Homo sapiens: one gene and its partner. The protein of the gene in region 1 purifies or fractionates together with the protein of each later gene. This does not show direct contact. Each region holds a gene or a part of one and is shown in the gene's direction. Other genes may lie near its edges.

Region 1 (3,653 bases):
GCTAGGGTGTAGGGGTGGGGTGAATGGGAGAAGGGACTGGTGAAATATTGGTCAAAGCATACACGATTTTAGTTAGGCAGGATGAATAAGTTCTGGGGATCTCATGAACAGCGTGGTGACTATAGTGAAAGTATAACTATTATATGCTTGAAATTTGTGAATACAGTATATTTTAAATGTCCTCACCACACACAAAAATATAGACTATATGAAGTGATGGATATGCTGATTAACTTGATTGTGGTAATCATTTCACAACGTACACATATATGAAAACATCATGGTGTATACCTTAAATATATACAATTTTTATTTGTCCATCATAACTCAATAAAGCTGGGAAAAAAAGACTAGGTGCATTTTGAGTAGGTAGAAAAGATATTTTTGGGTGAGGTACTGCCTGTCTTTAATGGCATGGAGACTGGACTGTGGAGAGTGTATTGAGGGACGGAGAGGGCCTGGCTGCTGTGGAGGATGTGTGCATGTCCATTGTGGGAGGTAAATGGAACAAGCGAGGTTAGGCTCAGATATAGATGGTTTTGCATGACTGGATTAGGAATTTGGACTTAATTCACAGGCACTGTAAATTCCTGAATGAGCAGTGGAGTGCTGAAGGAACAATTGAGGGAGGAAGGAGATTTGAATTGAGAGGCTAATTGGATAGTTATGTGTGTGGGAGGTAAGCTAGGTATTTAGGAATTGTGGCCCAACCTAGGTGAGTGAGAGGTGTGAGGAGGATAAATCAGGGACAGGAGAAACGTGATAGGATTTAATGGTTAATATTTACAGGTGTTGGTGTAGAAGAAAGAATTAAAGATTCCTACAAGGTTTTGTATTTGGGTAACTTGTTGAAATAAACATGTAACTCTTCTGGGCCTTTTAAAATAGAAGTTTCAGGCTTTTAAAGTTCGTTTGCTTTTGCATAATAATTAAATATTTAAATACCTTAGAGTAAGGCCTCCTTTCCTTTAATAGCATCTGTTTGAGAGTAGTGAGAAAGACTTGTAGACTCTTGTAGATCCCAGTTCTCCCCTTTTATATGGGCTTACATTGAGCAGCTGGAAATAGAGGTGGGAGGGGGGCCTACTTTAAAATATCATTGCTGTCTCTCAAGAGTTAACTTTATTTCTGCAGAGGAAAAATACCTTATTAGGAGTGATGGCCATGCCCAAAGAAATAAATCTCAGAATATTAGAGATAGAAGACATTTGGAAGCTAACCATATAAAAGATTTGAAAGAAAGCAAAACAGAGTTTAAGCTTATGATTGATTGTGTTTTGGAGACTTTCCAGTACCATCATGTATCTATAGATTAATGACTACATTGGTCGAGAGAATTTCTAAATGGCTGAGTCTTGATTTAAGTTTGAATTGAGTGCCTTTGGGAGACTTTAATTCATTTTTGTCCAACCACTCACTGAAAGCATTTGCTTAGAGCATTCAGAGATGGAATAGAGGGAATTTATGTTAACCAAATATAATTATTTCTTCTTTTACATCGCTTTCATTTGATTAATGGGGCAAGATTACTTTTCTAGTTGAAAGAAGATGTAAATAAGTATGAAATTATTTTGTTGCAGAATATGGCTCAAGCCTGGAAGATGACGTGGTGGGGGACACTTCAGGGTACTACCAGCGGATGTTGGTGGTTCTCCTTCAGGTATTGCGTGGAGATTAATTACAGTTTGATTAAAAAGCCTGAAGTTGGACTGGGCTGAATCTAGTTAAGTAAGGTCACTTAAAATTCTTTTAATAATTTGTGGTACTTGCTGATTCTTACTGCGATGATTCTGACTGTATGTTGCCTGTGCTTGTTTGTGTTTCAGAATATCTGGTCTAAATTCTTAACAGCTAACTCATACATGTTTTAGATAGTAGTATCTTGTTCCTTTCATAGAATGATAGCGGTATCTTGTTCTTTCATAGAATTTAAAATCAGTAGGGTCATTATTGGTTTTGGACAGTGCTGGGTGATGATAACGTGAAATAGTGCAGGATTGATCTTAATAAAAGCATATTATTCCTAGAGAAAGAGTGTTATTGAATAACCATCAGGTGGAACCATTTTTCCTTTTGAATGAGAATGCTCTATAGTTCAGTAATGTGACATATTACCTCTCATAGGCTAACAGAGACCCTGATGCTGGAATTGATGAAGCTCAAGTTGAACAAGATGCTCAGGTGAGTGACACCAGGATATGATGACTTTATTATGCTGTAGAAATGAAGAAATAATTCATGGTAATGAAAAATCACAATGTATGTTGTAATAGCTTCTAGTGATAATCTTGTTAATGGGTTATTTACATAGCATAAGACCTACATAAGTAGCTTTTTCTTATTCTGACCTGGTCAGCAAAATATTTTACCTTAAAGCTGAAACGAAATAAAATAAATTATATAGTGAGTTCCAACTAGACATGTTTTTTTTTGTGATTATTGAACATTCACAAAATAGAGAATTTTACCAAAAAACAGTGTTATTACTTCCACTGCCAATTATGCAGTGGGTCTCTTAGCAGGAGAAGATAAAGAAGAAAGAATAAAGTATTTAACAGTAAGTGGTGTTTAATTACATAAGAGATGACAAGTTATTTTGGTATTAGGAAATTTCTCTGCATTTCCTTCGACAGAATTTTAAGTAGGATTGGTCTTCTGTCAGCAGCTTTTTAGTGACTCCAAATGAAAATTTCCTCTTAAGTGACTTATAAACCCCTATAAAGTCTCAGTCTGGTTAATAAAACAGTTATTAAAATATAGGAAAGGAAATTTGAAACATGAGAGCTGAAAACTGGAAATTGGTAATAAAGGAATTACTTGGGTTCCTAGAACCACCAATCATAGACCTCTTTCTGGTCACATGTTTCAATTAAGAGAATATACAATTCTTGGTTGTTTGTCATGTATCATTGAAAAAGGAAGAGCCATATTCATTCCTCCAGTGGAACAACCCATGGATATGCGATCTCACTTTGCTAACAGGAAAGAGGAGAGCGGTTATTCTTTTGGGTAGGTTGATTTTATAATGGTTTCAGAATGCTGTCATCTCTGTCTAGCTGGAGAGAAAAAAAGAACTGAATGTTTACCGAGGGCTCTCTGTGCAGTATTTGACTCTTGCTTCACTCTGTCTTAGAAAATGCAAGCCAATTGTGTCCAGCCCCTTCAGACTCTGGTGGTTCCATTGCCCTCAGGATAAAGTCCGGGTTCCTGAATGGGTTACAAGCCCCTTTGTTATCTGTGTGTTGTTTACTTATGCCTCCAGCCTCTCTCACATGCTCTCTCTGCCCTCTTGCCCCTCCCACCCCGCTTCACCTGAGTCCTCTTCAAGAGTCAGTCTTCAGCTTAGATACTTTAGAGTTAGGTGCCCCTCACAGGGAAAACCATACCCCCCCCCGCCCCCAGGCTTCCTGTCACAGTTCTTGCCACGTTCTCTGGAAGCCATCTATTTACTTCACTGCCTTCCTGGGCCCCCTGAGCTGTCAGTTCAATTGTATCCTCAGCTTCTGGCATAGAGTAGGTGCTCAGTAAATAACTGATGAATGAATGAGCACATAACTCTACCAGAAAGGGGCAATTTCCCTTTTATGGATAAAGAAACAAACCCATGGCTTCCACTGAATAGCAGTGGAGTTGGAATTCCTAACGAGGCCTGT
Region 2 (3,653 bases), on another chromosome or scaffold:
TTCACCCCAATCCTTCCTACAAACAAAATCAGGTCAGTGCTTGAGTCTTTCCCAGAAGCTAGTTTCTGAATCCTGTCATTACCCTGGGCGCCTGGGAGTCCCACCTCTCCCTCAGCCCTGCACTCTGGACCTTCAGTATTCTTTCCATGGCCTTCTGCAGTCAGGCAGTCCAGACACCAAGAGGCAGGGGCAAAGAAGAGCATGGGAGGGGAGGCTGGCCTTGTAGTCACTGAAGCCTATATTCAGGTTTGCCAGGCTGGCCTAGCAGTCACCCTCCTTGCTTCATCTAATCACCCTTTATTTTTACTAACACCATCATTAAGCCCCCCTCAGCCTTCCCACCCAACTGAGAAATCCAAGAAACTTTCATCTTTCCCCACAGGCTAGTTCCCCAACCCTTTCATCATCTCCAGATTTGGGGGCATAACTAGGGCATCTTGTCCCCAGCTTCAATTCCCAGAATAATACCCTGTGTTAGGATTCTGCACTGGGTGCTGAAGAAGGATGGCTCTTATCTGCAATGGCGGGCAGAAGCTGGCGGATGGGAGAGGGTGGGGATTTTGGCCCCGTGGCTTCCCCACTCCCCAGGTCTGACCAGCAACCTCCAGCAGAGAAGGCACCATGTCCACTCAGGGGCCACACAGTGGTGCTTCATACATGTGCCACTGACTTAGTCCCAACCCCCCTCCAGGACACCTGAAGGTGCCAAGTGTGACCTGGGCTCCTGAGGTTATCCCTACCCATGTGATATCCCTATCTCTATTTTTCCAGCCCTATCACTTCATCAGGGTCTAAGCAGGGCAGGGAAATCACCAACATGTTGTTAGCTTTAAAATCAATTCCTTGCAGGGCACAGTGACTCACATCTGTAATCCCAGCACTTTGGGAGGCCGAGGCAGTTGGATCACCTGAGGTCAGGAGTTCGAGACCAGCCTGGCAACATGGCAAAACCCCGTCTCCAATAAAATACAAAAATTAGCCAGGCATGGTGGCTCATGCCTGTAATCCCAGCTACTCAGGAGGCAGGAAAATTGCTTGATCCCAGGAGGCAGAGGTTGCAGTGAGACAAGATCATGCCACTGCACTCCAGCCTGGTGACAGAGTGAGACTCCGTCTCATAACTAAATTAATTAAGTAAATAAAATCAGGCCAGGCGCAGTGGCTCATGCCTGTAATCCTACTACTTTGGGAGGCCAAGGTGGGCAGATCAGTTAAGGTCAGGAGTTTGAAACCAGCCTGGCCAACATGGTGAAACCCCATCTCTATTAAAAATACAAAAAAATCAGCCAGGCATGGTGGTGGGTGCCTGTAATCCCAGCTACTGGGGAGGCTGAGGTAGGAGAATTGTTTGAACCTGGGAGGCGGAGGTTGCAGTAAGCCAAGATTGCACCACTGCACTACAGCCTGGGCAACAGAGCAAGACTCTGCCTCAAAAATAAAAAGATAAAATAAATTCCTATTTGCATTTGGATAACTTAGGAGAACCTGTCTTCCCCGGTTTGCTGACGGAAAGTCAATTGTCTGAAGTACTAAGCTGACATTCTCAGTTTTTGCTTTAGGTTTGGGTATTCATTTAAATAATAATCTCACAAATAATGAAATAGTTTCTGGGGGAAAAATTATTATAACCTTATGCCCATATCTAACCCCATTCCCTTGAGCCCTGGTCAGTGCCAAGTGCCAGTAGCTTGGCACAAACATTAGTGCCCTGCCAAACCCCAATTCCTCTCCCACTCTTTTCTCACATAGCTCAGCTGGCCGCACCTTCATGGCTAAACAACCTGAGCTCTTGGAGATGCCCTGGCTCCCCTCTCTCTGCTCCTTATCACACAAGGTTCTAGGCAGCTGATGAGGCAAAAAAAAAAAAAGAACCCTGCAAGAATGTGTGCCCATGTATGTGTGTGTTGGGGGTCGACATGACCTTGGAAATAATAGTGTTTGTATTTCCTCTGCCAGGTGACAAGGAGCCCTGTGCACATCCCAACTCTCGATTTTGTGCCCCGGCTCGCCAGTGCCCCATCATGGACCCAGCCTGGGAGGCCCCAGAGGGTGTCCCCATTGACGCCATCATCTTTGGTGGCCGCAGACCCAAAGGTAAACAACATATGAGCTCCATGTTCTTGGCAAAAGGGCTATCTCTGTATTAGGGCCTACCTCCCTCCCTCTGATCCAGAGCCTCAGCCTGGATCTCACCTTTCTCCAGAGTTCTCCCCTGGTGAATGCAAACTTGGGAGGAGGCAAAGGGTCTGAAAATGGGATAGCCGAGGTCTTAGGAGAGAGAGTACCAGTCAAGCTCACCAGAAGGGCTGGAGTTAGGGTCCAAAGAAAAGGGCTGCCTGTGACTCTGTTCATTGGTGATCTAGGGGTACCCCTGGTATACGAGGCCTTCAACTGGCGTCATGGGGTGTTTGTGGGCAGCGCCATGCGCTCTGAGTCCACTGCTGCAGCAGAACACAAAGGTGAGCACCCTCACCATTCCTCCCTCTCCTGTGTGTGCACACAGCACGTCCTCTCTCCCTTCCTGAGCCAGACCTTCCTTTTGTCCACCCCTGGAGTCTGATATGGCCCCACCTCTTCCCACTTCTATCTTTTCCCCATCCCTGAAGATATTCAGAACCATAAGCCTTTCACAGCTTCCTCCAACTGGATGCAGGGTGCCCTTCCCTACCCCAGTGAGAAGGAAGATTCCTTACCCATCTTGCTTCCCCCCCAGGGAAGATCATCATGCACGACCCATTTGCCATGCGGCCCTTTTTTGGCTACAACTTCGGGCACTACCTGGAACACTGGCTGAGCATGGAAGGGCGCAAGGGGGCCCAGCTGCCCCGTATCTTCCATGTCAACTGGTTCCGGCGTGACGAGGCAGGGCACTTCCTGTGGCCAGGCTTTGGGGAGAATGCTCGGGTGCTAGACTGGATCTGCCGGCGGTTAGAGGGGGAGGACAGTGCCCGAGAGACACCCATTGGGCTGGTGCCAAAGGAAGGAGCCTTGGATCTCAGCGGCCTCAGAGCTATAGACACCACTCAGCTGTTCTCCCTCCCCAAGGACTTCTGGGAACAGGAGGTTCGTGACATTCGGAGCTACCTGACAGAGCAGGTCAACCAGGATCTGCCCAAAGAGGTGTTGGCTGAGCTTGAGGCCCTGGAGAGACGTGTGCACAAAATGTGACCTGAGGCCCTAGTCTAGCAAGAGGACATAGCACCCTCATCTGGGAATAGGGAAGGCACCTTGCAGAAAATATGAGCAATTTGATATTAACTAACATCTTCAATGTGCCATAGACCTTCCCACAAAGACTGTCCAATAATAAGAGATGCTTATCTATTTTACACAAGATTTGTGCTGTTTTCATTTCCCACCTATCTTCACAGGCTTCCCTCTAACACCTGTCTCACAATCATCTTCTTCCAGCCCCTAGAAGAAGCACAGCCTGGCACAATCAAAGATCTGTTTTACAGGTAGCTCTAGCACTGGGTCACAGACATAGGAATTGCTGGGAGAAGGCACTATCCACTCTATGTCCTGAGTTCTTAAAAAAAAAAAAATGGTGAGGCTGGGTGTGGTGGTTCACGCCTGTAATCCCAGCACTTTGGGAGGCTGAGGCGCACAGATCACGAGGTCAGGGGATTGAGACCATCCGGGCTAACACGGTG

What was found.
Region 2: the proteins of ANXA5 (region 1) and PCK2 fractionate together in Homo sapiens (co-fractionation; one large-scale study listed by BioGRID). This does not show direct contact.

Annotation. Positions count from the first base shown.
Region 1 is NC_000004.12:121,676,422-121,680,074, reverse strand, and holds part of ANXA5 (annexin A5), read left to right. Parts: exon of another isoform or gene 1-1,580; coding exon 1,581-1,660; intron 1,661-2,124; coding exon 2,125-2,181; intron 2,182-3,653. UniProt on the Homo sapiens protein: This protein is an anticoagulant protein that acts as an indirect inhibitor of the thromboplastin-specific complex, which is involved in the blood coagulation cascade.
Region 2 is NC_000014.9:24,100,797-24,104,449, forward strand, and holds the end of PCK2 (phosphoenolpyruvate carboxykinase [GTP], mitochondrial isoform 1 precursor), read left to right. Parts: intron 1-1,956; coding exon 1,957-2,094; intron 2,095-2,363; coding exon 2,364-2,459; intron 2,460-2,713; coding exon 2,714-3,168; 3' UTR 3,169-3,329; downstream 3,330-3,653. UniProt on the Homo sapiens protein: Mitochondrial phosphoenolpyruvate carboxykinase that catalyzes the conversion of oxaloacetate (OAA) to phosphoenolpyruvate (PEP), the rate-limiting step in the metabolic pathway that produces glucose from lactate and other precursors derived from the citric acid cycle.